Regions from separate parts of the Homo sapiens genome. Here all the other regions are linked to region 2. The links come from fine-mapping of genetic effects on gene expression. A gene starts in region 2. Each other region holds a variant in brackets. All regions are shown on one strand. Distances are from middle to middle.

What was found. PIP is the estimated chance that this variant, and not a neighbour inherited with it, causes the effect. A credible set is the group of variants that fine-mapping cannot tell apart.
Region 1: its variant is the best candidate, but not a certain one, in a credible set for the expression of TDRD9 in blood mononuclear cells (TOPMed, PIP 0.83).
Region 3: its variant is the best candidate, but not a certain one, in a credible set for the expression of TDRD9 in whole blood (TOPMed, PIP 0.54).

The regions. Positions count from the first base shown.
Region 1 is chr14:103,895,456-103,905,887 of GRCh38, reverse strand. No RefSeq gene overlaps it. Among named protein-coding and RNA genes, the nearest start is that of ATP5MJ, 21 kb to the left of the region's middle. RefSeq lists a silencer at 4,545-4,604. The variant G/T (reference allele first, on the strand shown) is at 5,849.
Region 2 is chr14:103,923,360-103,933,791 of GRCh38, reverse strand. It overlaps TDRD9 (tudor domain containing 9), which reads right to left and starts at 5,336. Exons shown (of 36, transcript NM_153046.3): 1 at 5,068-5,336. The coding sequence starts at 5,282.
Region 3 is chr14:104,008,324-104,018,755 of GRCh38, reverse strand. TDRD9 (tudor domain containing 9) reads right to left here. Exons shown (of 36, transcript NM_153046.3): 20 at 10,290-10,343; 21 at 3,915-4,031; 22 at 2,668-2,775; 23 at 564-664. It also overlaps the pseudogene RN7SL634P. Among named protein-coding and RNA genes, the nearest start is that of RD3L, 71 kb to the right of the region's middle. RefSeq lists an enhancer at 660-1,859. The variant C/T (reference allele first, on the strand shown) is at 5,361.

The DNA.
Region 1 (10,432 bases), 28 kb after region 2:
CGATGCTGCTCCCACCTCAGTAAAAACTGTAAACTAGGTCGTGTTGGAGTTGGAATATTATAAGTGTTTGTAGAACAGATGAAAATTAGGAGTGGTAAAAGAGGAATACTAAAATTTTAAAAATCGTAATAAGCCTCACATAAAAAGCACACAGAGTATCATTCTAGTTTTTTTTTTTTTTCTTTTTTTTTCGAGACAGAGTTTCACTCTGTTGCCCAGGCTGGAGTGCAGTGGTGCGATCTCCGCTCACTGCAAACTCTGCCTCCCAGGTTCACGCCATTCTCCTGCCTCAGCCTCCCAAGTAGCTGGGACTACAGGCACCCGCCACAGTGACCGGCAAATTTTTTGTATTTTTTGTATTTTTAGTAGAGACGGGGTTTCACCGTGTTAGCCAGGATAGTCTCGATCTCCTGACCTCGTGATCCGCCTGCCTCGGCTTCCCAAAGTGCTGGGATTACAGGCGTGAGCCACCGCCCCCGGCCTATTCTGGTTTTATTGTGCCATGTAAAAAGTGTTTCCAGGCCGGGCTGTAGTCCCAGCTACTCAGCTACTCAGGAGACTGAGGCGAGAGGATTACCTGATCCCAGGAGGTCGAGGCTGCAGTGAGCCGTGATCATGCCACTCTACTCCAGCCTGGATGACAGAGTGAGACTGTCTCAAGAAAATATATATATATATGTATTTCTGCAAATGCCTGTGCACAGCCTGTGCCTCTTATTTGTGCCCCTGTACCTGAGATCATTCACATAGGTTGGATTCGGGTTCCGGCTGGAGCTACTGCTCATTGCCTGTGTGGCCTCTGGCAAACTCCGTAACTTCTCTGGGCCTCGGCTTTCTCATCTCTAAATTAAGACTTCCAGAATCTCTCTCAGCTCTGTAATTCTATAGCTAATGGATTTGTAATGAACCTAAATTGCATCATCCAAAAATAAAGTAAACTGTGAAGCAATTGTAGGATAGATGATAAATTGCAGATGTATGTAAAGGACATGAATTCATCTCTTGTAAGCCTGATATCTAACAAAGGACCAGGCATTTATGGTAGGTACTCATATCTTTTAATGAATTTAATTAAATAAGGATGCTAATTAAAAAATAATTTCCTAGCTCTTGCTAAAATAGAGTAAGGGATATCTTTAGTGACTATATATTACCAATTACTCTATTACTAATGACAAGGAAATGACAGAATGGTTTCTGACTTCCTGGCCAGGCCAGAGGGAAGGACCATGCTCAGTGCAGCTATTGTGGTCCAGGAACCTGGTAGCTCTTTCTATTGCCAGAGTAGAAATTTGATTTAGCCTGTCCTCCAGAGCTAATCAGTCTGGAGGCAATGAGTCTCCCATAACTGAACTCCAAGATACTGATGCTTACCATAGACTCCACTGGGTTAATTAATAGAAATAAGCCTGTTAGGTGGACCAGACATGAGACGTAAGAAACTACAAAGAAAAGAGCAAATTTTTCCCAAGCCAAAGATGGGAAAGACAAGAAATTAGACGTTTCAATGGAAGAGAAAACAGAGAGCTGGGCACTCTGGCATGTGCCTATAATCCCAGGCTCAGGAAGCTGAGATAGAAAGATTGCTTGAGCTCAGGAGTTCAAGATCTCCCTCAGTAACATAGCAAGACCCCATCTTTTTTTTTTTTTTCAAGATGGAGTCTCGCTCTGTCACCCAGGCCAGAGTGCAGTGGCGCAATCTCAGCTCACTGCAACCTCCACCTCCCCGGTTCAAGCGATTCTTCTGCCTCAGCCTCCTGACTAGCTGGGACTACAGGTGCGTGACACCACGCCCGGCAATTTTTTGTATTTTTAGTAGAGACGGGGTTTCACCGTGTAGCCAGGATGGTCTCAATCTCCTGACCTCGTGATCCTCCCGCCTCGGGCTTTCAAAGTGCTGGGATTACAGGTGTGAGCCACCGCACCCGGCCGCAGGACCCCTCCTTAAAAAAAAAAAAAAAAGAAACGAAAAAGAGAAAAACAATGGAGAAAGATCAATGAAACCAAAAGCTGGTTCTTTGAGAACGTCAATAAAATGGATAAACCGCTAGCCAGACTGATCAAGAAAAAAATAAAGGAAGAAGATAAAATCAATATCAGGAATGAGAGAGATGCCATCTGGTCTTGAACTCCTGGGCTCATCTAAGGGAAACACAGCAGAGATGGAGGAGGAGGGATTGATTACAAAAAGTCAGGAGGAAACTTTGGGGGGTGATGGATCTGTTCATTTTCTTGATTGTGGGGATGGTTTGACTGTGTATATATATGTTAAAACTCATTGGCGAGGCTCGGTGGCTCATGCCTGTAATCCCAACACTTTGGGAGGCCGAGGCAGAAGAATCACTTGAACCAGGAGGCGGAGGTTGCAATGAGCTGAGATCGCATCACTGCGCTCCAGCCTGGTGATAAGGTGAGACTCCATCTCAAAAAAAAAAAAAAAACTCATCAAATTGTGCAATTAATGTGAAACTTACCAATAACCTCCAAATTATGTAGACATAATGTTATGTGGAGACTTTATACTTCAATAAAGCTATAAGAAAAGTTTCTGGCCGGGTGCGGTGGCTCACGCCTGTAATCCCAGCACTTTGGGAGGCCGAGGCGGGTGGATCACGAGGTCAGGAGATCGAGACCATCCTAGCTAACACGGTGAAACCCTGTCTCTACCAAAAAAATACAAAAATTAGCTGGGGATGGTGGCGGGCGCCTGTAGTCCCAGCTACTCAGGAGGCTGAGACAGGAGAATGGCGTGAACTGGTGAGGCGGAGCTTGCAGTGAGCCGAGATCACGCCACTGCACTCCAGCCTGGGTGACAGAGTGAGACTCCATCTCAAAAAAAAAAAAAAAAAAAAAAAAGGTTTCTAAAAATTCTATGCTGGCCAAGCGTGGTGGCTCATGCCTGTAATCCCAGTACTTTGGGAGGCTAAGGCAGGGGGATTTCTTGAGCCCAGAAGGTTGAGGCTGCAGTGAGCCATGATCGAACCACTGCACTCCAGTGTGCGGGACAGTGAGACCCTGTCTCAAAAAAAAAAAAAAAAAAAACCTGGGCGTGGTGGCTCACACCTGTAATCCCAGCACTTTGGGGGGCCAAGGTGGGCAGATCACCTAAGGTCAGGAGTTCAAGACCGGCCTGACCAACACAATGAAACCCCGTCTCTACTAAAAATACAAAAATTAGCCGGGTGTGGTGGCGGGCTTCTGTAATCCCAGCTACTCGGGAGGCTGAGACAGGAGAATCGCTTGAACCCGGGAGGTGGAGGTTGCAGTGAGCCGAGATCATGCCATTGCACTCCAGTCTAGGCAAGAAGAACAAAACTCCATATCAAAAAAAAAAAAAAAATTCTAGGCTAACCCTCAGAAAATAAAGACCTAGTTTTTCAATGAATGAAAAGTATCCAATATGATACATTAAATCCTGTCTCAAAACCATTGATAATTCTCAGAGTGCCTGGGCTGAAATTTACCCCTTTATTTGAGCAAATAGTTTCTTCATAGATAGGGAAATTTAGTGCTATTTAATCAAATGTGCCAGAGTAATATTAAAATATTTGAGGAGTCCTGGGTGGGTGCGGTGGCTCATGCCTGTAATCCCAGCACTCTGGGAGGCAAAGGTGGGCAGATCACTCGAGGTCAGGAGTTCGAAGCCAGCCTGGCCAAAATGGCGAAACCTTGTCTCTACTAAAATTACAAAAATTAGCCGGATGTGATGGCACATGCCTGTAGTCGCAGCTACTCGGGAGGCTGAGGCAGGAGAATCACTTGAACCCAGGAGGCGGAGGTTGTAGTTAGTGGAGATCACGCCACTTGCTCTCCAGCCAAGAGTGAGACTCCACCTCCAATAATAATAATAATAATAAAATATTTGAGGAGTCCTAAAATGTAAGTACCCATAAGCATTTAGAAATACCCACCTACAGATAAGTAAGTGAGGTGGTCATTATACATCATTCTTGGCCAGTAATCCAGGCTTGAGATGCTGTGTGAACTTGTAAGCAGCAAAAGAAGATAAAAAGGCATTCTTCATAAAGTTAAGAATTAAATGAGATATCAATAAGCCTTATTTTAAAATAATTCATCATGCCAGGCATGGCGGCTCACGCCTGTAATCCCAGCAATTTGTGAGGCCGAGGTGGGTGGATCACCTGAGGTCAGGACTTCGAGACCAGCCAGACCAACATGGAGAAACCCCATCTCTAAACACAAAAATTAGCTGAGCATGGTTGTGGGCACCTGTAATCCCAGCTACTCGGGAGGCTGAGGCAGGAGAATCACTTGAACCCGGGAGGCAGAGGTTGCAATGAGCCGAGATCGCGCCACTGCACTCCAGCCTGGGCGACAGAGGGAGACTCCATCTAAAAAAAAAATAATAAAATTAAAAATAAAGTAAAATAACTCATCATTTAGTTTTACATAACTCAAACTTGCTTTCTCTGTTCAGTGATTGAGGTTTCGTTACATTCATTGGTTGAATTCAAAATAGAATTCACTTAGGATTGATTTGCAAGCACAATATACTCAGAATACAGCAGACAAGTGCGACTCGCATGTGAGAACTCTGGGGGTTCTAAGTCAGGTGTGTGGGAGGGAACGCTGCTCCCACGATATGCCAGGAAGGGAGGGCTCCCGCGGGGAAGCGGCCCTGGGAGTGGCGCCCCCTGCTGGACAGCGCGCCGGTGCACACCAGCGAGCGAGAAGCTCTGCGCTGCTGGAGGAAAAGTGGGTTCAAGCCAAAGCTTCCCAAAGGGAGTCACCTTGAGGCCCCTTCTGTCGGAACATGCTGAGATGCTGGTGCTCCAAGCCCAGGAATCTCTGGCTCTTCCTGAGTGCCCACCCCATGATGAACAGCTCCTCTTTAGTCGACCTCTTTCGCCTGGGACCCACACCTGCCACTCTCAGCCACGCTCTGCACATGCCTTTCTGGGGTCACAAAGCTCATTACACATCTTCCTTGGTTGAAAGAAGAATTTCAGCCAGGAGCGGTGGCTCACGCCTGTAATCCCAGCACTTTGGGAGCTCGAGGTGGGAGGATCATCTAAGTCCACGAGTTCGAGACCAGCCTGGGCAACAAAGTGAGGCCCTATCTCTAAAAAAAAAAAAAAAAAAAAAAAAATTGTTTGTTTTGTTTTGTTTTGTTTTGTTTTTGAGATGAAGTCTCGCTCTGTTGCCTAGGCTGGAGTGCAATGGTGATCTTGGCTCCCTACAACTTCCGCCTCCTGAGTCGAAGCAATTCTCCCACCTCAGCCTCCCGAGTAGCTGGGATTACAGGCGTGCGCTACCACGCCTGGCTAATTTTTGTATTTTTTAGTAGAGACAGAGTTTCACCTCGTTGGCCAGACTGCTCTCGAACTCCTGACCTCAAGTGATCCCCCCATCTCAGCCTCCCAAAGTGCTGGCATTACAGGCGTGAGCCACCGTGCCTGGCCAAAAAAAAATTTTTTTAATCGCGCAGTGGCACATGCCTGTAATTCCAGTTACTCAGGTGGCCAAGGCGGGAGGATTGCTTGAGCCCAACCAAGAGCTAGAGGCTGCAGTGAGCTATGGTGGCACCAAGTACTCCAGCCTGGGCATCAGAGTGAGACCCTGTCTCAAAATAAAAAAAGTGCTGGAGGCTCATGTTCCCCCGTTGCAGCGTGTGACCACTGACTGCCAGGCACACTCTAGGATCAAGCTGCTGCAAGCACCAACAGGACCTGGGCCGAAACTCGCCTCCTGAAACCCACCTCCTGCTTGTCTTCTCCTGTTTCCATAAGCATTGAGAAGCCTGCTCTCCTCCGCACCCCCCAGTAAGCCACCTGAGCACGAATCCCCACCTGGGCGGATGTGGGCAGCACACAGGTAATCCCGGGGT[G/T]GCCACCCTGCCCACACCACCCACCGTGCTCTTCTTCACATCAGCTGCCTTCAGGTGACTGCACATCCCAAAACTGCGTGGGAACACCACCGTGGGCCTACCCATGTCCTGAAGTATCCAGGAGACTGGCGGGATGCCCGTCGCCTCTCCCTGCCCCACAAAGCGACTACTGTGGGGACCGCAAGGAGCCACATGGAAGAGCTGCCTGTCCTGGCCGGCTCAGGCTCTCCCCAGGCTGAGGACAACCATGGGACTGATAGAGACACTCTGTTGTTGAGATTCGGGCTTTCTCTCTTTCGAAAAGGGGTGAAGACGAAGGCTTGTGTCTGCATCTCCTCTCTGGTCTCAAAGCTGAGTGGCTTTTCCAGGGAAGCCAGCACCCGCGGCCTCTCATGCCAGCCCAAGCAGTTCTGAAGCCCACCCCTGTGACGAGGCGCTGCCGGCTGCGGAGCCTGTGCCAGCACGTCTCATCACCCAGGCGGGCTCCCCAGGCCCACAGGATAGCTCTGCCCCCAGCCATGGGTACTGCCAGGCCATCTCCCCACCCCACCCGGAGGAATTGAGGGCCTCTGCCTCACACACACATCCCTTCCCCGCAGCCCAAGCACCAGCACACCAGCAGGTGGAGAGAGTTGTTTCACTTGTGCTTGAGAAGGCGCCTTCCCTTCTAAGAGGAACTGCAGATGTGAACGTTTGCAAATCAAATTCCAACCGAAATGGCCTGCAGTGGCAGTTCTCAAAGGGTTTCCTGGGGCCACAGCAGCAGCATCTGGGAACCTGTCATAAATGCAGGTTCTTGGGCCCCACCCAAGACCTGCTTTGGGCCCTCCGTGATAGGGCCCAGGCCTGTGTTTCAGGAGCCCTCCAGGAGATTCTGATGCATACTCAAGTGCAGCCCACTGACCTAAAAGAGCCTGCCTTTGAAGGAAGCCTGGAGCAAGGCCTTCTGCAAAGACTTGAACCACCCGCAGTTCTGCCCAGTCAGCACAGCTGAATTTTCCTCCAAATACAGCACAGGGTGCACCCACCTTCAGAAGAAAAGCCCCCCGGCCCAGCTTCCAGGTGTCGTGAGGAGAGCAGCCGCAGACCGAGGCTGCATACCTGGGGCTGGGCTCCCTTCCCCTCCCCTGCCGCCCTGCCTGCCCTGCTGCAGGAGGCGAGGCCCGGCTGTGTGCTCACTGCTCCAGGCCTGATGATGGCTGGGAGCATTCAAGGAGCCACCCCTACCTGTGCCTGGGGCGCAGTTGGTCTTGTCTTAAACTCAATTTCTGGTAGACCTGGAGGCTGGGCTCAGCCTCAGTCTCCCTCCACCTCTCCACCATGTGTGTCAGGCAAAGAGGCTGGGCTTCCCCGCTATTTTCCTGCCCTGAGCTGAGCATCAAGCTGGGCCTCAGAGATCCTTCCTTTCTCCCCATGCTCCCCTCTCTCCAGGAGGGGAGGGACTCTCCTCCAATCTCCAATATATGGTACATATACATATATATATACCAAAACAAAGATGTAGCTGCTGTCACTGCTGACCAGAACACCCTTCCGGTGTGCCTTCCCACCTGAGCTGTGCCTGCACTCACCAGCCCCCTTGGGCAGATTGCCACTGTCTTTAGGAGCCAGGCTTATACCCACCTCTCCCCACATGCCTACCCAACTCTCAGGTCCCAACATGCCCAGCAGTTGAGCCAACACAAGTTGATCTAAGTTCATCAGAAGGTGAGTGTTTGACTGATTCTATACTCGCCACACAGGCCCACCCTCGTCTCATGCAAGTGACAGCCCCAACTCCACTCCTCATCTCCCAGCCTGTGAACCGAGGCAGCCATGGAGCCTGGAAGGAGAACAGACTCCAGTATCCACAGACGCCCATTCTAAGATGTTCTCACGGGGGATCAAAAGAAGCTGAGATCTACCCATGTTGGCCCTGTCGGGACACAGTATCTTTTGGGGATCCAAGAAGACACTGTGGGCCCCAGGACTCCTGGATCCCAGAACTGTGGCTGGCCCTGGACACAGAGCGGCCTAGAAGATCTTGGCTCTGTGTCTCACTGGGGCCTCCTTGACCCATTTCCAAGCTGTCCTCTCTCCTCCCCGTGCCTGCTCCCTGCTACGCTGCTCCGCTCCTCCTGACTAGGGTCACGATGCTGTGTGGGGCCCCATGGCACCCACACGACCTTTTGGCCATATTTCCCTTCTCCAAGGAGCCTCCCTCTTCTGTTTATGGTCCAAACCTGAATGGGACATCTGACTGGCCCGGCTCATCTTCGGCACCAGCCTATAGGTCTCCCGCCAGCCTATGCGCGAGCTGCCCTCGGGCCTGGTGTCCGCCGGTGATCCATGCCGCGTGACAGGCCAGGGTTTCAGGGGTTTCCTTCCCCACAGCTCTGCTCATTGTCTCTCTCCACCATTGAGACGCCCATCTGGGTCCCTTATATTTTGGTTTTTAAACCTCCCGGTTTCATGCAGTTTTATTTCATCTTTAAAGGTTGACACATGGTTGTCAGCCCAGCGGCCCTGGTCTGGAAGTCCAGGTTTGGGTGGCAATGGCGGTGAGAGTGCTTTGGGCCTCGGTGCCAGAGGCCAGCCTGGTGATTTAGACACCTCCTCCCTGCCAGGAGCCTGTGTTCACTCCAGTTCTTTCAAAGTGGCTGCAGAGGGGGGAGGTGGGGATTAAACGGAGGCTCCTCACTGCAGCAGAGGAAAGCAACCCTTGCCAAGCCCCTGGTCTTGTGCCAACTCCCTGCTGGTTTGGGGAAAGCTGATGAGGGTGGCCCGCCATGCTCTGGTTCTCAGGACAAAGTTCAGAAGGTGAGCCCAGCGTCCTGGCAACAACTACCCCTGGCTGCTCCGTGGCCACCGTGGGAGTGGTTAATAAACACCCGGGCTGGAGGTGGTAACGCCTATCTTCCAGGAACTTAGTTCAGAAGAGCTTTATGACCTGGATGGAGTCACCTGTTAAAGAGTAACGTACACCCCATATTACACTCGAGTCCCAGGAGTAACTATCCAGGGGAAGTGTTTATTTCCATGGGTGAACAAAGCATCCTTTGGGGGAGACCCTACCAGCACCAGGCTCTCCTTTGATGGGAACTGTCTGGCCCAGGCCTGGGGAATATGCAGCCTTGCAGCTACCAGTTAGCCACTTTGGGGGTGAGTTTATCCTACACAGTTTATCCTTGCTCTCCCCAGAGTGAGGGATTGAGTGGGCTGGCAGGAAACCAAAAGGAATCTACCTGTCCCTCCCACTCCCCCCACAGGCCCACATGGCGGGGAAGGAAGGCGGGATCCATCTCCACATGACGGGGAAGGAAGGCAGGATCCATCTCCACATGATGGGGAAGGAAGGCAGGATCCATTTCCACATGACAGGGAAGAAAGGCGGGATACGTCTCCACACATGATGGGGAAGGAAGGTGGGATCTATTTCCACGTGACAGGAAGGAAGGAGAGATCCATCTCCATGTGGCTGGAAGGAAGGCGGGATCCGTCTCCACATTGCCAAGCTACACCCTGTGGTTTCTCTCCTCGTCTGGCACAAAGGCAGTGCTCATCCCTCAGTGTGGGGCCATGGCAGTACAGGTACCCCCGTCTCCTCTGGGGTCTCACCACGTCTCACGGATCCTCCTGGAAGGGGTGCTACAGCTCTCCAAGCACTTACTCTGGGCTGCACCTTCAAGTCTGGGAGAGAGCTTTGCTAAAATACAACTTTCTGAGTCCAGCCCTGCAAACCTACCCAGCCCAGACCAGCCGAGGAGGAGATGGGGAGCCAAGTGCCTGGAGGAAGGAGCCTGGGGCTGACCAGTGCTGGATGATTAAATTAAATTCCTAGGGTGGTGCGTGCCAGTAATCCCAGGTACTCAGGAGGCTGAGGTGGGAGGAGCACTTGAGCCCAGGGGGTCAAGGCTGCAGTGAGCCATGATCACACAACTGCAATCCAGCCTGAGTGACAGAGTGAGACCCTGTCACTTAAAAATAAAATGCTCCCTGGGCCGGGTGCGGTGGCTGACTCACGCCTGTAATCCCAACACTTTGAGAGGCCAAGGTGGGCAGATCATGAGGTCAGGAGTTCGAGACCAGCCTGGCCAATACGACGAAACTTGGTCTCTACTAAAGATACAAAAATTAGCTGGGCGTGGTGGCTGGCACCTGTAATCCCAGCTACTCCAGAGGCTGAGGCAGGAGAATCGCTTCAACCTGGGAGGCGGAGGTTGTAGTGAGCCGAGATCACGCCATTGCACTCCAGCCTGGGCTACAAGGCAAGACTCTGTCTCAAAAAGAAAAGAAAAGAAAAGAAAGGGGGAGGGGAGGGGAGGGGAGGGAGAATCCAGCTATGTAGTCAGGTTGGGAAGGCCAGGAGTGTGAACCCCACGGGATGTGATGGGACTGGGGTCATGTGGGAGGCAATGCTGGCTCAGACAGAAGAGGGAGGGCGCCACGGCACTCCAGTGCAGGAGCCTGCAGTGGACCTCGTTCCCTGTGAGCACAGGGTTCTGCCTGGTCCAGGTAACAGCCGCGTGAGGCTGGTCTTAGACTGTCCATTTTTTCGCTTAAGGAACCCACAGGACGGCTGGGTGCAGTGGCTCACACTTGTAA
Region 2 (10,432 bases):
CTGTGTCACCTGACACAATGCCCAATACAGCAGGCATTCAACTTCAGTAAGAGACAAGTGCAAAAACCAAGACTTAGGGACCTGGGCCAGATGCGGTGGCTCACACCTGTAATCCCAGCACTTTGGGAGGCCGAGGCAGGCAGATTGCTTGAGCTCAGGAGTTTGAGACAAGCCTGGGCAACATGGCAAAACCCTGTCTGTTTTTTTAAATAATATTTTTTAAAATAATAATAGTAAAATGAAATAAAATAAAATAAATTAGGGAACTAGAAGAAAGTAATCACCAGATAGTGGAAATCTGAAAGCTTCCTATGATGAAGGCTTCCCAAAGACAAAGAACATTTTAATAAGGTGTTGAACAGTCAAAGACACAAAAGCGAGAATTAAGTAAGATCTTCATGAGCCAGGAGTTAACGTGAGCTGTGAAGACAGGAAAGTACACGGCAGAAAGCACAAAGAAACACAAGGCAGAAGGAAGCTGGGAGTGACGCAAGGCTCCCAGCCATGGGCTGCAATCCACAGGAAAGCTGGTGCTACACACTGGAGAATGCTCAAAATGGTATATCACAGCCACTGAGGTTTTCTTCTTCATATGCCAAGGTGAAGACACGAGAATGTAAGGATAACAGAAAGAATAATCACCATCAAAGAGTAAAATACAGTACCATGTGGAAGAGGAGACATGGGGAAATCCGTAAAAATCACTGGAAACAAAATTTATAAATTGTTCCCCACAGGCACTCCGGCAACACCTTCATCGTGAGTAAGGTGTTACTCACCTTCAGCATGAGCAAGATTCATGCTGGGACCCACAGGCGCCCACACCATCTCCGGCAATTCTTGTCTGAACTACCTATGATGTAGTCTGGCATTTTCTATTTATTTTTTAATGCTGGTGGTCACTACTCATTAAGCTGATTAAAAAAAAAATTGCCCATGTTCTTCTGCTGATTTAAGCTGATTTAATCATTAAGCTGATTTAACAACACTCTCTCAGACCGGACTGCAGTGACTTGGTGTACACTAATTTTACCATTGAGTGACTATCTCTAACAAATACATTTTAACTGTGCAATACCCTATGCTTATAAAAGCCATCCCTCCCGGCCGGGCGCAGTACCTCACGCCTGTAATCCCAGCACTTTGGAAGGCCGAGGCAGGCAGATCACGAGGCCAGGAGATCGAGACCATCCTGGCTAACACGGTGAAACCCCGTCTCTACTAAAAATACAAAAAATTAGCCGGCTGTGGTGGCGGGCGCCTGTAGTCCCAGCTACTCAGGAGGCTGAGGCAGCAGAATGGTGTGAACCCGGGAGGCAGAGCTTGCAGTGAGCCGAGATGGCGCCACTACACTCCAGCCTGGGCGACAGAGCGAGACTCCGTCTCAAAAAGAAAAAAAGCCATCCCTCCCCTATGTCAAATGTTCTCTCACTAATGTCAATGCCTCACTCAACACTCTCCTTCACTGGGAAAAATAACATTCAACAAGTATCCAAGTATCCACTATGTGCCAGGCACCGTGCGGGGTTCACAGGTCGGCTCACCCCAATCCGAACCCAGCTCTGCCACCAGATTTGTACCCTAATGCAGTGCTGCCTCAACAAATCGCAAAAACATAGCAGTTTCAAACAAGGCAAATTAATTACAAGTCCAGGTGAACTCAACTGGATCCCCTGCTTAGGGTTTCCTAAAGCTAAATCAAGGTGTTAGCAGAGTTGCGTTCCCTACTGGCAGTGCATTCAGGTTGTTGGCCAAAACCAGGCCCTTGCAATTGTAGGATCAGTCCCTTGCAAACTCAGTCCCTTGCAATTGTAGGACTGAGGTACCCATTTCCTTACCTGCTGTCAAGTGGGATCCAGTCTTTGCTCCTAGCTGCCCATATTCCATTCTCATGCTTTCCATGTGGCCCCTCCGAGCAATGATATTTCAAATCTCTCATTTCAAATTTATCTGACTCCAGCCTGAGAAAGTTCTCTGCTTTTAAGGGCTCATGTGATCAGACTGGGCCCACTCAGACAATCTAGCTAATCTTCCTGTCCTATGATCTGTAACCTTAATTACAGCTGCGAAATCTCTTTCACCATGTAACATTACATAGTCACAGGTTCCAGTGAACATCTTTGGGGGAGTCATTCTTCCCATCACCACCATTTGCTACAGGAAGTTGGGCAAGTCACTTTACCACCAAAACCTATTGCTTCATCTACAAAATCATGAAAGAATCAGTTGATGATAAAGCCATCAACCTCAAAGTGTTGTTGTGCGGATTCAATAATATAGCTATATTTAGCTGAGTGCCTGCTACGTGCTGGAAACTCTGGCATTGAATACATATGCACCTAGAGCCCAGGAAGCTACTTCCAGAAGAATTTCATCAAAACTAGCACTACTCATAGACCAACATTGCCTGTCACTGGTTAAATACAGAAGTTAAAATGTTTACATCAATTTCACAAAGTAATTTTACATATGTTGAATTTTTTTTTTTTTTTTGAGACAGGGTCTCATTCTGTCACCCAGGCTGGAGTGCAGTGGCACAATCTCAGCTTACTGCAACCTCTGCCTCAGGGACTCAAGCAATTCTCCCACCTCAGCCTCCTGAGTAGCTGGGGCGGCAGGCACAAACCACCATGCTGGGCAAATTTTTGTTTTTTTTTTTGGTAGAGACAGGGTTTCACCATGTTGGCCAGGCTGGTCTTGGAACTCCTGACCTCAAATGATCTGCCCACCTTGGACTCCCAAAGTGCTGGGATTACAGGTGGGAGCCACCACACCCAGATTGAATCTAATAATTTTTTAACTGCGATTAGTATGTTGTCTTTTTTCATTTCATTGCTCTGAAAATTCATTTTTATTGATTTTATAAAAGTCTCAGTCCATGAAGGACTAGAAATCTTAAAAACTTGTCCTTAGTGCTTAAAATGGCACTTAAATCTATACTTTCTGACAAGGTCAATAATAATTTACTTCCAATATTACAATGGGTTATTTAATAGCAATGCTGTTCACACCGTTAAAACTAAGGAGTAAGTGATGGACCATTAAGTAGGGGAGGCGGCCCACAGGATCATTTACCAGAGTAGCTCAAGGAAGTAAAGTGTGCAAACATACAAACAGCAACTCCAAAGTTGCACAAGGGGTCTCTCGGTCCCCCCTATGCCTCTAAGAACCAAATTTACCAAAGATCCCAAAGGTGTACTTGAAAGAACTCTACAAAGGCTTGAAGCAACCCACGAAAGCTTGACCCAGAGTCTGGGCCTATCCATCAAATCAGACAAGACTAACAAACAAGAGTAACTTTAAAAAAGAAAAATAAAGCCAGGCACGGTGACTCACACCTGGAATCCCAGCACTTTGGGAGGCCGACATGGGTGGACCACAAGGTCAGACCGACCTGGCCAACAAGGTGAAATGCTGTCTCTACTAAAAATACAAAATAAGCTGGGCGTGGTGGCACACGCCAGTAATCCCAGCTACTCGGGAGGCCAAGGCAGGAGAATCGCTTGAACCCAGGAGGCGGAGGTTTGTGGTGAGCCAACATTGCGCCACTGCACTCCAGCCTGGGCAACAAGAGCGAAACTATGTCTCAAAAAAAAAAAACCAAGAAAAAGAAAAACAAAACCACCTTCTCAACTGTAAAGCGTGCTGGACTTGGGGACTGAGCAAGAGTGACGGAGATACTCCAAGCTGGAAGTACTTCTCCCAGGGCCTTTTTAAAGAGCGAGAAGAGGGAGCAGGTGTTTCTACTCACCAAATCTACGTCTTTCCTCTAAAAACAGAGGATATACTCTTGCTTTTTATTTCCACCCAAATCAAGTGAACAGAGTAACTGATGGTAGCTACTTAAAGAATAGTGAGATGAGGAGGGAGTCTGTGAAACTTAACAAAGATTCAGCATTTGCACTCCTTGGTATTTACCCAATGAGTTGAAAACTTATGTCCACACAAAAACCTTGCCAAAACTTGGAAGCAGGCCGGGCGCAGTGGCTCACGCCTGTAATCCCAGCACTTTGGGAGGCTGAGGTGGGCAGATCACCTGAGGTCAGGAGTTCTAGACTAGCCTGGCCAACATGGTGAAACCCTGTCTCTATTAAAAATACAAAAATTAGCCAGGCGTGGTGGCATATGCCTGTAGCCTCAGCTACTCGGGAGGCTGAGGCAGGAGAATCGCTTGAACCTAGGAGGGGGAGATTGCAGTGAGGCGAGATGGCGCCACTCCACTCCAGCCTGGGTAACAAAGTGAGACTCCATCTCGGGGGGTGGGGGGAGAACTTGGAAGCAACCAAGCTCTCCTTCAGTAGGTGAATGGAGATAAACTGTGGTACATCCAGACAGTGGAATATTAATCAGTGCTAAAAGGAAAGAAGCTATCAAACCATGGAAAGGCATGGAGGAACCCCCAAATGCATACTAATACTAAGTGACAGAAACCCATCAAAAAGGCTACACATACTGTGTGATTCCAACTAGATGACAGTATGGAAAAGCAAAATTATGGAGACAGTAAAAAAATCAGTGGTTTCCACGTGGTGTAGGGAAAGGGAGGCAGGAACAGTGGGGCCGAGAAGATCTGTAGGTCAGTGAACTCTGTAATGCGTGACGTTAGGCGTTTGTCCAAACCCACAGAACGTCCAGTACGAGGCGTGAACCCTCCTGTAACGATGGCCTCCGGGTGACGAAGACGCAGCGATGCAGGTTCGCCGACTGTCACAAATACCCACACCTTACGCAGATGCTCACAGGGGAAACTCTGGGAGGGAAGGGGCCTATGGGACCTCTGCCCTCCGCTCCGTTATCCTGAAAACCTGAGTGCCTCAAAAACTAGTCTGTTAAACATTAAGAACTGAAAAAAAAAAAAAAAAAAAAACCTCTAGCTCAGCTTCCTTACAGGCACCGCTCTGGGCCGCGCGTCGGGTTGTGTAGTGACCACTCGCCCTGGACGGTCAGGGGTCCCTGGAGCCCCGCGAGAGGGCACGGGCTCGCGAGAAGGATCTGGATGGCCCGTGCCCTCGTCGCCAGGCCTCGCCCGGCCGCCCTCCAGCCGCCTCCGCCCCGCCCGCGTCCTACCTTTCGAACGCAGCGGCCGGCCGGGCCGGAGCTTGGGCCAGAGCCGGAGCCTGGGCCGCGGGACCAGCGCCGGGGGCCACGTCCTGGCGCTGCACCTCCTCCCTGGCCGCCCCTGCCGGGAAGGCGGGCGGCGCGCCCAGCAGCTCCACATTGGTCACCGTCTTGCCGATGGTGAACCAGTCGTTGATCTGCTCGATGGTGAGCTTCCGCAGCATCCTCAAGGCCCAGGCGTCGGCATCCCCCAACTGCCGGGTCTCCGCGGCGGGAACAGGCGACGGCGGAAGCGCACCCTGGAAGCCCCGCCCCCGCTCGAGGCCTTCCAATCAGAACGCGCCGCGCGCCCTTGTGGGCGGGCTCCGGCCCGGGCGCGTGCTGCCCGCGCTGCCTGGTCCTCGTGCCGCCGGCCCCGCCCCGCCGCGCTAGGCCTGCCGGGAGCCGCCGCCCCGAGCGAGCCCAGGGTGAGCCTTTCTAGGACCTCAGGGGAAGCTTGAGCGCCGCGGCTGGCCCGGGAGTCTGTTTCACGGGAGTTCCGTGGCAACCCCTGTGTGTACAAGAAAATGCCCTCCGGTCACTCCCTGGCCTCTCTATTTAGAGGCTGCTGCCTCGGAGGTTTGTGCGCTTTGAGCGGACCGGGACCCTACATACGTTTCTTGAGCACCTCAGGGTGAGGAGATGGAAGGCAAACCAGAGAAGGGATTTGCGTTCGTGGGTCAGACGTACCAGGACATCCTTGCACCTAATATGGGGGGAGAGGGGCAAGAAGAAGGTCAGGAAGGTCTCGGAGAAAGTAACGCCAGGCAGACCCCTGCAGGATACGGGGGAATGCGCCAGACGGAGGACCACCCAGGGTTATAGGGGAGGGCAGGCGGCCCTGATGGCTGAGGTGAGGATCTGGGAGAAGTTCTTTGCAGCCGGATCATAACTGAATTCATCTTCCTTCCTAAACCGGTGTCTCAGGCGGCGGTGTCAGACTCACAGCTGGACACAAACAGGTGCGGACAGGAGGTCCAGGCGATCACATGGACCAAAGATACAGGCTGAGGTGGTCCCGGCCGAGCTCTAGAAGAGTGAGGGTGGAGAACAGAGCCCTAGCAAACTCCCCAAAAGAAGGAGCCGCGGGAAGAAATCAACAAAGGATGCACGGGAAGGCAGCCACGTGTGCAAGGGAAGGGAGGGTCAGAAGAGAGACATGGCCACCTGCCTGGGGTGTGTCCCCCTCACTGGCCAGGGCAGGATCTATCTGGCCCATGTGGGCTCTCAGGAAAGAGCCATGTGAACAAATACAGAGACGGTATCGAGAGCATGGCTCTAATCAGCAGTGTAAAGCCCAAGCAGTGGCAAATAAGAGGGCGGTTTGAAAACACTGTAGACAGAAATCAGGCAGGTAGGTTGAGCTATTGGTGTCTCAAAAATTGAACCCATAATCATACTAAGCCAGGAGTTCTGGCTCCAAATCCTGGCATAATGAGCTCTAGACCTCATATTAGGACTCTGCCAAATACGACAGGTTCCCAAAAGTGCCTCAACACACTTTGCCAGGAAGAAATAACTTGCTTTTCTTTTTTCTTTTGAGGCAGGGTCTCACTCCTGTCGCTGAGGCTGGAGTGCCGTGCTGCAATCAGGGCTCACTGCAGCCTCAACTTCGGGGGCTCAGGTGATGCTCCCACCACAACCTCCTGCATAGCTGGAACTACAGGCTCACGCCACCACCACACCGGCTAATTTTTTATATTTTTAGTACAGACAGGGGTTTCGCTGTGTTGCCCAGGCCAGTCTCAAGCTCCTGGGCTCAAGCAATCTGTTTGGGAGCCCTTGGCCTCCCAAAGTGTTGAGACTACAAGCATGAACCACCATGCCCAGTCATGTTTTTCAAAAAATAAGAAAAAAGGTAATCATAAAGTAATTGAGACTCATGGTATGTCATTCAGCATTGATTGGAAAATATTGTAACTTCACACTGTATGTGGAGGCTAGGACATAATTCAAAATTTTACAAAATATATTGAAACCACTTGAAGCAACTCCAGAACTCACACTTGTTTTGTTTTGTTTTTTGTTGTTGTTTTGAGACGGAGTCTTGCTCTGTCACCAGGCTGGAGTGCAGTGGCGCGATAGCTCACTGCAACCTCTGCCTCCCAGGTTCAAGCAATTCTCCTGCCTCATCCTCCGGAGTAGCTGGGACTACAAGCATGCACCACCATGGCTGGCTAATTTTTTGTATTTTAGTAGAGACGGGGTTTCACCATGTTGGCTAGGAAGGTCTCAATCTCCTGACCTCATGATCCGCCCGCCTCGGCCTCCCAAAATGCTGGGATCATAGGCGTGAGCCACCGCGCCTGGCCTGTTTTTCTAGGATGTTGCTGTTACCGTGTGCTGTCATCCTTTGTTGATGTCACAATGAATACGATTTTAAGTGGAAGATGCTTTTCAAAAACATTTTCTGGGGGGCATTTTCTATATTCTTTGATCTTTTGGGCTACTAGCTAATCCTTCTGAGTTTTGATTTTTTTTTTAATTGCAATCCAAAGATACTCTCTTGATGCTTCTTTGGAAATTTGCCAATTTGGAAAGTTGCCATAGTGTTTCCTGACCAAACACTAGTTAACATTCTGAATCATCACAGACTGAATGGCTTTGAGCACCTTTCATTTGATTCAGTAGTTCTCGGTGCTCCCAACTCACTTGGTCAAGTTCACCTTGCATTGCTGTCCAAAGTTCAGAGTTAAAAGAAACAGCTTGGGCTGGGCGCGGTGGCTCACGACTGTAATCCCAGCACTTTGGGAGGCTGAGGTGGGCAGATCGTGAGGTCAGGAGTTCAAGACCAGCCTGACCAACATGATGAAACCCCATCTCTACTAAAAATACAAAAATTAGCTGGGTGTAGTGGCGCGCACCTGTAATCCCAGCTACTCGGGAGGCTGAGGCAGGAGAATCGCTCGAACCCAGGAGGTGCAGGTTGCAGTGAGCCAAGATCGCACCACTGCACTCCAGCCTGGGCGGCAGAGCAAGACTCTGTCTCAAAAAAGAAAAAAGAAACAAGAAACAGCTTGACATCAGATAGATCTTCATGGACTTGTCACATCTAGGCCAGAACACATGGGAAGGCCACTGAACCCCTAGTGAGCCATGGTATTTTGGGAAGGTTTTGCATATTTGCATTCACTGAGCATTTGAGCGTCCACCAAAAAGGGGAAACTAACAGCTGAGAGCAGTTACAAATGGTGTTGGTGCCATTCAGCAGCACTCTCCTCAAAGCAGAGGAAGCTGTGCTCGAAGTAGCTTGCTGTCTTCTCCAGCCTTCCTACCACAAGATGCAACATTCTGCACTTTGAATAAATCTGCTGGAGTGGCCCTTTCCTTAAACATTTAGGTTTTTTTGGCCGGGCGCAGTGGCTCACACCGGTAATCCCAGCACTTTGGGGGGCTAAGGCGGGCGGATCACGAGGTCAGGAGATCGACACCATCCTGGCTAACTCGGTGAAAAACCATCTCTACTAAAAATACAAAAAATTAGCCTGGCGTGGTGGCGGGCGCCTGTAGTCCCAGCTACTTGGGAGGCTGAGGCAGGAGAATGGCGTGAACCCGGGAGGCAGAGCTTGCAGTGAGCCAAGATCACGCCACTGTGCTCCAGCCTGGGCGACAGAGCAAGACTCTATCTCAAAAAAAAAAAAAAAAAAAAAAGAAACATTTGGTTGTTTTTTTTTTTTAAGATGTGCGTTTCTTAGGGTGTTTTGGATTTGAAACTAAAGACATTAAAACTCTCTTGGTCTGAGCACAGTGGCTCACGCCTGTAATTCTGACACTTTGAGAGGTCAAGGTGGGAGGATCACTTGAGGCCAGCAGTTCAAGACCAGCCTGGGCAACATAGCAAAGTCTATTGATCTCAAGTCTAGTTGGAAGTTCAGAAGCTCTGTCTTGAAGCAGCTCTCCATGATGTTCTTCCTTAAGTTTTTCCTAAATGCTTGTTCTCGTCCTCAGCAGTGTTATAAGTCATTATAAATCTAAAACTCTAAAACATTTTTACTATAGGACAGTGGTTCTCAAACCTGGTTCTGTCTCAGAACCCCTTTACACTCTTAAAAGTTGCTGAGGACCCTAAAGAGATTTTGTTTATGTGGGTTATGTCTATCAGGGATTACAACTGAGAAATGTTTTTACTTATTTATTTTAAAATGATAAACCCGTTTGATGTTAAACAGTGTATTTTTCTAAAACGTCACTATGTTTTCCAAAAAACATTGTGTGTGTGTGTGTGTGTGTGTGTGTGTGTGAGAGGAATAACACTTTTACATTTTCAAAGATCGCACCACTGCACTCCAGCCTGGGCGACACAGCAAGACTCCATCTCAAAAAAGAAAAAAAATGATTTTAACTGGATCTTGAGCCTTTTATTATTTTATCTTGACACATCTGAGCTCGTTTTCCTTGTGCCTGAATAATGAACATTTATTTTACTGTGGATCTGCTTGTGATTATTTCAGTCCTAGCTGCACCATTTTATAAACCCCCCACCATTTCACAGACCCTGGTCGGAGTGAAACATTCCATGGGGGCTCTGACCATAAGAAACATCCTGCCCAACTGCCTGACTGCGGGAACATCCTTATCACATCCTGCCAGGCAGCAAGCCATACTGCCCAGACCCATCCAGCCCAGACCTATAATTACCCCAGCCTGGAAGCGGCAGTGAGCTCGGGCACTAAACTGGTTATCCGCTCCACGGGTTTTTGCTGGCAATAAACCTGTGTTGCTGTTGAAGCCACCATCTCTCTCCCCTCTCCCCTCCCCCCCTCCCTCTGTGTGTGTGTGTCTGTCTTGTCTGTCTTTAACCCTTGCCTTCCCTTCAAAACCTAATAATTTCCTCTTTTTTTTTTTCCTTTAAAGATGGGATCTTAATACATTGGCCAGGCTGGTCTCAAAATTCTGGGCTCAAGCAGTCCTCCCAAAGTGCTGGGATTACAAGCATGAGCCACCATGCCTAGCACGATTTCCTCTTAGTTTGTCCTTAACTGTCTTTATTTTACCTTCTTTTCTGAATGCCAATTTCCCTGTGTATAGAATTCCCTGTGTATAGAATTCTTGATTGGTGGTTACTTTCTTTGAGATTTTATCTTTATCTTTTCTATGGCTTTATTGTGAGATTTCAAGGTATTGATTTATTTTTATTTATCTGCCTGCTTGGTTTCTGTAAGGCTTTTTGTTTGTTTTTTGTTTTTTGTTTTTGTTTTTGAGACGGAGTCTTGCTCTGTTTCCCTGGCTGGAGTGCAGTGGCGCCATCTCTGCTCACTGCAAGCTCCGCCTCCCGGGCTCACGCCATTCTCTCACTCAGCCTCCGGAGTAGCTGGGACTACAGGCACCCACCACC
Region 3 (10,432 bases), 85 kb before region 2:
AAATCCTACTTTAGGCTTTTTGGTACATAAACATTTCCTGTTAGAAATAAAAACTCAGTGATGCTCCAAAACACACATTTGTTCCTTACATGCAGTAAGTAGAGCCAAATTGAGTTTTTACAATGTTTGCCTTCCAAAAATATTCAAAACATATCTGCTTTAGACAACTATAAGCAGATACACTCTATTTTGGATCACCTTCATGGCCCACAAAATAACTCTTACTAATGACTCACTGAGAAAATCTCAGACCAGTGCGTGAAAGTGAAGATCACTTTAAGAGAATCCGCCTTAGCATCACACTGAGTTACTGAGCCTTCTTGGAGTGACCATGCTTGACCACTAACCAGCAGCTTAGTTCCTTTAGGAGGTCACTTAGCAGAAAGAGAAGACAAATTGCTTCTGACCATAAGATAAACCAAAGCTACATTCTGAAAGCCAATTGCAGCAGCCCATAGGAGGACCCATTTCCATGGGCACTCCGTTTTAACAATCAGCGTCTGGAAACATTTGAATCATTATGCCTCCTTCATAATTGCAGTTGATTACAAAAATATACTTACTTTGCACCATCAAATACAATGGATTTGACTTGACCACACTGTCTAAAGAGAGACTGTAGTTGTTTATAGTAAAGAAATCCATAGGGAGGAATGTGTTTCAACTGTAAAATATAACACAAAATCAGAGCAGATTACTAGAGCTAACAAAATAGTTTCAACATTCACAAGCTCAAAGCTGCTGCACACTGTTTTAGTTTCTAAAAACATAGTTTACTATCTTTAACCATAATATATAAACTCTACAGATCAGTGCATTTAAAGACTTTTAAATTCTAACTAAGTTCTATAATAAATATGTTAAATAAAGGCTAATTCTAACCCTGTTAAAATGGTGTAAGTCTAATACAGCAAAATTAAGATTTGTTTACTTCTGTTTTCCCTTAAAATAATCAAGCTTACTAAATACTTCTTTTCAAAACATATTTCTACATAAGGAATAATGGGAATGTAAACTTTAAAGGAAAATGTCTAACTAATGAGAGGAATATGTATTTCCTCATCACCACAGTGGAAAGACCAAATAGCACATGATCAAATTGGCAGTGACTTTTAATGTATAAACTCTCAAGGTACCATGCTGGGTTTCTGCAAAGCACTCCATACTTTCTTCTGGACCAGGACAACTCCTGTGCCAGCGCAGCTCTGCACGGGGCTCCGTGACAGAAGGCATGTAAGTGAAGGCATGGGCTGGGGCTCAGATCCAGTTAGATCCTGTCTCCTCACTCCCTGAATCCGCGTGTCTCCTTAGGCAAGTTACAGAGTTACCCTGAGACCCAACTGCCACATCATGAAATAAGAATGACATGAGAAATCCCCAACTCAAAGGGTGGAGTGAGGCTCAGAGAAGAATGAAAAGTACCTAACACACAGCCTCTCAAGTGCTAAGTAAAGCCAGCTATTATTGAGCTTTTATGATGTACACACTAGGTAATTTTGGGCCCCCAGACTAGGCTCTCTGTGGTCGAGGGATGCAGGCATAGCTACTAGACGTCTGAGGAAGAGACCTATAGAACCCTTCCTCTTGCGCACAGCTGAGGGAAGAAAACCACGAAGGGGCAGAGGGGTGAGAGAGGAAGCCAAGCAAAGAGCTTAGTCAAACCTGATGGCCAGCAGGAGCAGAGGTGCCAATCAAATGATCCTCAGTAGCTATAAAAAACTAATGACTTCCTTTTAAAGTCCCTTCCACGGGTATCAAGTGTATCTCAGCTGCCTCTCTCATCTCCAGAGCACCAGCTCCTTTTGGTGCTCATCAAAGACCTCCAGTTGTAATCTCAAGTCATCTGCGCCCTTTCCTTATGAGCTATTTATTTCTTCAGGACTAACAGTGGTGGTGTAACAATAACCAGGATAAAATCTGGCAATGACTGAGCCCTTACGATATGACACGAAGGAACTTCAAGCGCTTCTCACCCCGCCTTATCAGATACAGGCACATACTGGAACCAAGTGATCCAAAACAGTCCAGTCTCAGCTTTCTTCCAGTGTGAGTCTCCCTGCTGCTGGGCTTTAAACAACTGGGTTGCAAACGCTGATTCAATGGTCAGGGCCTGTGGCTGATCATTAGATATGCCCAAAGTACACACTACTTGAATGCTGATTTCTAGGGCATACTTTCTAGCTCAGATCTCGCAGAGCCTTCAGATCTGAATTTCAACGAATATAAATAAAATAAGCACTCTCCAGGTAGTTCTGTTGGGCATCCAGGTCGGGGGGTCACTGGCTTAAGCCACAGCACTCAGCTGCCAACCAATAACATTTTATTTTGTATGAAATGAAGTTGTGAATTAAGAAAATGTTCTTAAACTTGTAAGTGCCTTAAATCCTTCAAAATAGCACATGATCAAATCAGCATTGACCTTGAACGTATAAACTCTCAAGGCTTCCTTATAAGGCCAGGTCTGTAAAAGGAGGCAAGAGACTGAGGGACAAGTAGATACACATGAAAAGGCCAAACAAGCCTAGATACACCTGAAAAGGCCAAACAAGCCTAATATTCACGCCAGGGGAAAATTCACTTAGGACTCACAAGAATAGAAACAATTAGAGAACAAAAATGTTCTGCCCCACCACACCCCAGAGAGGACGGCCTGCCCCCAGCACCTACCACGACAGTTGTCTTGGGGTCCTTGCCAGCCAGCTCCCTCACCGCCATCTCCTCATCCGGCTGTCCAAAAGTAAAGTAATTTGGATAGAAAGCACCTGCCAATACAACCTGAAAAAGAAATTTATTTTCATGAAGTAACAGCATTATTTTATCAGTTATTCTCACCAATATACTAATCTCAACCCAGCATGATATGACATCCATAAATGTAAAAGATGGTTATCGTTTGTATGGAAAACTAGACCTTTCACCAACCAAGCAGAAAGTCACAATTCTGGTAATTTCATCTAACAGAAACACTAAAAAATAAACACTTTTTTCACCTAACAGAAACATCTTTCTTCAAAAGAGCTTGAGTACTTCTCAGAATGAGGCTTGGGAAACAGTGGCAAGTTGAACAAGGACATAAACCATCCTACACACAAAGCCCCAAGGTCGGCCAACTTTCTCCACTTCTCCCCACACACATCTATGTGCAAGGTACTCTCAGATGTTCAGATAAAACTCCAATTGGAGCACTCAGATTTAGGGCAGCAGGCTGGCATCCACTATTCACCTCTAAAATGCACTCTGCAAAGAGTCCCTTCTTCAATAAAAACATACCAGTTTGAAACACACCCACCAAAGACTCCCCCAGCCTTAGAGCAATTTTACATCCAGGAAAACACTCGCACATTTCCAGCACACCCGGTTTATAGGCATCTACCTCAAACCTGATTCCGTATGCATCAGCCAACCCTTCTAGGAAACCCTACAGCAGAGGCAGTCTCCACTGGCCAGGACACACTTCTCACTCGCTACATTCCAGCTAACTACTAGTAATTTGAATCCATGGCCTCCAAAGTTAAAATAATATTTTCAGTGTAGGGGAATAGCTATATACACTGAACGATATAAAGAGCACTTCACTTTCTTAAAAGCTAAAACAAAAGGATCTCTCCTGAAGCAGTGATAACACAGGTACTCTATAGAAACACTCCCCTGGAAATTAGAAATGGGTCTGAATCCATTAAATATTAATAAATAAACAATAAATACTCTCTAGGTGAATCATCAACTCAACAAATAATGCAAACTATGAAAGAAGAATGTTTCCTGGTTCCCAAACGCAGTATGAACACTATGGACCTAAAATCTCCTTTGAGGTTTGGTTTGTATCAGAAAGCAGGAATAAGCAGTTTCTCGACCACAAGACCTTGTAAGCAGAAAGAATCAGGAAAAAAAATATCCAGGAAACTTCAGCACACCTGTAGGATGAATCGCTGCTTATATATATACTCTTGGTCCATGACAGGTCGCCGAGAATCAACATGCATGTTGAACTGTGAGATTCTAGTCTTCAATTCTTCATATAATTCAGCCACCTAAGAAAAATACATTGAAATCTGATGTCTCAAAGGTACATATGTCATCAGAGCAGTGAAAACACTAGAAAATAAGTGCACAACGGGTAAAGTATAAACACAGCTACAGAATGAAACACTGCAGCTAATTAAGAATCATCTTTTGGCTGTGCACGGTGACTCACACCTCTAATCCCAGCACTTTGGGAGGCCAAGGTTGGGAGATCACTTGAACTCAGGAGTTTGAAACCAGCCCGGGCAACATGGCGAAACCCAGTCTCTACAAAAAAAATACAAAGTTAGCTGGGCGTGGTGGCGCAGACCTGTAGTCCCAGCTACTTGGGAGGCTGAGATGGGAGGATCACCTGAGACTGGAGGGCAGCGGTTGCAGTGAGCCAAGATTGTGTCACTGTACTACAGCCTGGGTGGCAGAGTAAGATTCTGTCTCCAAAAAAAAAAAGAAATAATCTCTTAAAAATTTTTATTATTATTATCTTTTTTTTTTTTTTTTTTTGAGACAGTCTCGCTCTGTTGTCCAGGCTGGAGTGCAGTGGCGCGATCACAGCTTGGTTCACTGCAAGCTCTGCCTCCGAGGTTCACGCCATTCTCCTGCTTCAGCTTCCCGAGTAGCTGGGCCTACAGGTACCCACCACCACGCCCAGCTAATTTTTTGTATTTTTAGTAGAGACAGGGTTTCACCGTGTTAGCCAGGATGGTCTCAATCTCCTGACCTCATGATCCGCCTGCCTCGGCCCCCCAAGGTGCTGGGATGACAGGCGTGAGCCACCATGCCTGGCCTAAAATTTATTTTTAGAGGCAAGATCTTGCTATATTGCCCAGGCTAGACAGTGCAGTGGCTATTCACAGGCACAATCCCACACGGATCAACACAGGAGTTTTGACCTGCTCCAACTTGGCTGGTTCACCCCTCCTTAGGCAACACAGTGGTCCCTGGCTCCCAAGAGGTTACCACATCAGTGTTGCGTTTAATGCAACACCCAATCAGCATGGCGCACTACAGCCCAGAACTCCTACGCTCAAGTGATCCTCCAGCCTCAGCCTCCCAAACAACCGGCAATACAGGCGTGTGCCACCATGCCTGGCAAGAATCATCTTCTTAGAAATTAATTAATAAGTAATGTTAAGGATGAACAATATAACACTTAGAGAAAATACCAGAATACAAAATCATATATGCTCCCTGATCTGTTTATAAACACACACCCCTGAGATGGGAACCAATGCAAACGCATAACTGTGCCCACCCAGAGGTCAGAATAGCAGAGAGCCATGACCACAGCCTTGCTTTAGATCCTTGAAACACGTCCCAGCCTCTGCCATGAACATGTA[C/T]GGCTTTTGTGATTAAAAACAAAGTAAGTGACCTATGGCCAAATAGTCCCTCCGAACAGGAAAATAAAATCAATATCCAGTTGTAATAAAAACTGTTTCACACAAAATGTCAAACTTTAATGTACACACATGAAAATACACAACTCCAAATACCTATGAACTGATCATAAATTAAGTCACCACAAAAGTATCTCAATTACAAAAAGAATACAGTCACAAGTGTGAACATAACTGGGGGGAATAACAACTAAAAAGAATTGAAAGGACAGAAAAACTCAGCAGCCACTATCTCTGTGGAGGGAGGAAAAGCCTGGGACATGGGAAGCAAGGGAGAGCACACTCAGATGCTCGCCTCTGTACCCCTGAGGGATGGAACTGTTTCATGTGACTGTAATCACATGTAAGTGAACTAAGTAAAAACCAAGACTATGCCACTCTCTATACTAAAATGCAATAAAATCAGAAATGAACAACAACAAAAAGATATTTAAAAACATTTCAGGGCTGGGCACGGTGGTTCACACCTCTCAGAGCTTTAGGAGGCTGAGGCAGGAGGATTGCTTAAGCACAGGAGTTTGAGGCTGCAGTGAGCTATGGTTATGCCACTGCATTCCAGTCTGGGAGACAAAGACCCTGTCTCTAAAAAATAAAAATAAACTCTTTAGTCAGAGAGGAAACCAACACTAAAAGAAATTATAGACAGGAATGTCAAAAATCAATAGGATGTGGTGGCTAAAGCTGCTCATAATAAAATTCATAGCTTTAAATGCTTTTAATTAGAAAGACTGAAAATATTATTATTAATAATAAATACTAATTTCAGAAAGACTGAAGTAAACTAAAAGTCAAAGGAGAACTAAATTAATGGAAAAAAAAAAAAAGCAATGATTTAGAATCCCACACCTACTCCTTCCCTCCCAAAAAACATACACAAGAAAACTGACAAATGAAACTAAGAGTAAGCTCTCTGAAAATACAATAACACAAAGGAAGCATCTTGCAGACTCTGCAGTAAAGGAGTAATCCAGCAGGCCTGGCTGTCCAGACCATGCACATTCCAGAGAAAGGCTTGGCCCTGGCCCAGCTCCTGAAAGGTCATTGCCAAGCCTCCAGGGACTCTTACCCTCCTGGATAAGAGTATGCATGCTGACCTGGGGCCTTGGGCCACACAAAAGAGTTCACGCTAGAATATGATTGACGGTGGGGCCTTGGGCCATGAGGGTAACAGTTTCCTCTGGAGGGACTGAAGACTGAGTAACTAAAGTCAGTCACATGGGTACTCTAGGCCTACATAACCAGTGCTCAATAAAAACCCAGGACACCAAGGCTCAGGTGAGCTTCCTGGTTGCAATACTTCATGCCTGTCATCGCACACTGTTGCTGAGAGAATTAATCACTGTCCATAAGACTCTACTGGGAAAGGACACCTGGTAGCCTGCACCTGGTCTCTCCAGGGCTCCTCCCATGCACTTTTTTTTTTTAACCTTTGCTGATTTTAATCCATATCCTTTGGCTAAAATAAATCATAAGCATAAGCATAACAGCTTTTCTACTTCTGTGAGTCCTTCTAGCCAATCAGTGAACCTGAGGATGGTCTTGGGGACTCCCTGAATATACAAATATAATCAAGAAACAATGAGAGTACACAAATACACAACAATAAGAACAAGAAAGGTGTTACCAGTTGACATGAATTTGAAATTAAGAAAATTACGTGTAACTATACATCAATAAACTTCATGATCTGGATTAAATGGGTACCTGAATGAAAAAACGTAACTCATCAAAAATGACTCCAGAAGAATTAGAATCCAGAATGGATCAGTAACTACCAGGGGTATTGAAATTTTTTTTAAAATTGATCCCTCAAAAAGGCACTAATCCCAAAGGTGTTTTTGAATGTGTTCTATCAAATATGTAAGAAATACATTTCTAGTTATTAAACTGTTGATTAAAATGGTTCCTGGGTACAGAAAGATGTTCATCCTACCAGGGTGGTATCAATAACAACATCTCATAGTATTGTGCATGCATGTGCGCACACATGCACACACACACACGTAAACCAGAGGCCAATTTCACTTATAAATATAGAGGCAAAAATTCTAGAGAAAATATTGGCAATCAGAACCGAGCAATGTTTTGGGAGAAAACATTACAAACAAGCAGAGTTTATTCTAAGAACACGTGGCTGGGTCAACAGTGGGAAATCCATCATGTATTCATGTATAAGTCATGCACCACATAGCAGTGTCTCAGTTGACCATGGACACGTATAGAACTGTGGACCCATAAGACCGTCACAGAGCTAGAAAATTCCTGTTGCCTGGTCACGTCATAGCTGTTGTAGGGCAACACGTTTACTCACGTGTCTGCAGTGATGCTGGTGTAAACAAACCTACTGTGCTGCCAATCATATGAAAGTCTAGCACATACAACACATACAGTACATTTCAGTTCACCCCTGAACAACATGGGGTTGAACAGCGAGGGCCCACTTATATGCAGGTTTTTCTCAACCAAATGTGGATCAAAAATACAGTATTCGAGGGATGCAAGCCCGAGTATATGGAAGGCCGACTATTCACATGGGCGCCACAGGGCCAACTGTAAGACTTGAGTATTCGTGAATTTTGGTATACAGGGGTCCTGAAACCAACCCTCCAGTGAATACCAAGGGATGACTGTACTTGATAATGATAGTAACTATGTTACTGGCTTATGGATTTATCATACTATACCATCATTATTTCAGAGTATATACTCCTATTTTTTTTTTAAATTAACTTCACATGTCTTGAAAGAAGTAGCAAAAAAAAAAAAAAAGGAAACAAACAAAGTTAATTATAAAACAGTCTCAGGCAGGTATCCTTCAGGAGGTATCCAGGAGAAGGCACTATTATACTGTAAGAGATGATAGCTCCATGTGTTACTGCCCCTGATGACCTTCCAGTGGACAAGATGTGGAGGCGGAAGACAGTGATACTGATGATCCTGACTCTGTGTACGCCTAGGCTAATGTGTATGTGTGTCTTAGTTTTTAACAAAAAAGTTTAACAAATAAAAATTATTTTTTAAAATAGATAAAACCAGTCTGGGCTACAAAGTGACACCCTGTCTCTACAAAAAAATAAAAGAATAAAAAAAATTAGGACAGGCACAGTGGCTCACACCTGTAATCCCAACACTTTGAGAGGCCAAGGCAGGCAGATCACAAGGTCAGGAGTTCAAGACCAGCCTGGCCAACATGGTGAAACCCTGTCTCTACTAAAAATACAAAAAAGTAGCCAAGCGTGGTGACGCACACCTGTAATCCCAGCTACTCGGGAGGCTGAGGCAGGAGAATTGTTTGAACCCGGGAGGCAGAGGTTACAGTGAGCCGAGACTGTGCCATTGCACTCCACCCTGGGTGACAGGGCAAGACTCCATCTCAAAAAAAAAAAAAAAAGAAAGAAAGAAAAAACAAATTACGAGTGGTGACATATGCCTGTAGTTCCAGCTACTGCAGAGGCTGAGGCAGGAGAATTGCTTGAGCCCAGGAAGTCAAGGCTTCTATGAGCTGTGATCATGCCATTGCACTCCAGCCTGGGCAACAGAGTGAGATCCTAGCTCAAAAACCAAATAAATAAGGAAATAGATAAAAACTTATAGAATAAGGATATAAAGAAAGAAAATATTTTTGCATAGCTGTACAATGTTTGTGTTTTAAGCTAAGTGTTAATATGAGCCAAAAATTTTTTTTAATTAAAAAGTTTATCAAGTTAAAAAAAGTTATATTAAGCTACAATTAATTTTTTAAAAATTTTTATGAACTTAGTGTAGCCCAAGTCTGCACTGTTTATAGTCTACAGTCATGTGCAGTGGTGTCCTGGGCCTTCACATTCCCTCACCACTCACTCACTGACTCACCCAGAACCACTTCCAGTCCTGCAATCTGCATTCACCATAAGCTCCCTATATTGGTATGCCATTTTTATCTTTTATACCAGTGATCCCTAACCTTTTTAGCACCAGGGACCAGTTTCATGAAAGACAATTTTCCCACAGGCCGGAGTAGATGGGGATGGTTTCAGGATGAAACTGCTCCACCTGAGATCTGGTATTAGTTATATTCTCAAAAGGAGAATATGGCCCAGGTGTTGGGAAACCCTGTTTTATAACCATATTTTTACCGCACCTTTTCTATGTTTAGTTATGTTTAGGTACAGAAATACTTACCATTTTGTTGTAATTGCCTACAGTGTTCAATACAGTCACATGCTGTACAGGTTTGCAGCCTAGAAGCCATAGGCTACACTATACAGCCTAGGCGTGTAGTGGGCCATACCATCTAGGTCTGTGTAAGTATGTTCTATGCTGTTTGCACAAGGATAAAACCATGTAATTACTCATTTCTCAGAATGTATTCCTGTCATTAAGCAATGTAAGATTGTATTAGTGGGTAAAAAATTAAAATACCATATGTTTATCTTTTTCTTTTTCAAGACAGGCTCTCGCTCTGTCACCCAGGCTAGAATATATTGGTGCGATCACGGCTCACTGAAGCCTCTGCCTCCCAGGCTCATGCAAACCTCTCACCTCAGCTTTCCCAGAAGCTGGGACTACAGGTGTGAGCCACGACACCCAATCTCTTTATCCTGACATATACTGAAAAGACATACAACAAGATGACACAACCATTCCTCATTAAAGTATACATAGGGGAAATACATTCCTTAACTGGAAAAGGAGTATTTATTAGAAACCCAAGTAGTTCTACTGAAAGGTGAAAACACAAGAGACACTCCTACTAAAGCTGGAAACAGGCAGGAAATACACTTCTTGGAATACTCATTACTACCCACGTACTTAATAAATATTGTTGTCATTTAATAAATATTTCATAAGTCAACTTTATTTGCATCCATTTGGTCAAAAAACTTAACTTACCTCTCTAATTCTCTTGATTTGAATGTAATTTAACCGTCCCCAATTAAGTTCATCCTTTAAATATATAAAAGCAGAATACTCAATATTAAGGTAATAAATTAGAGCTGAATTTAGCTACTTTAATACATATTTCATCCAAAAAT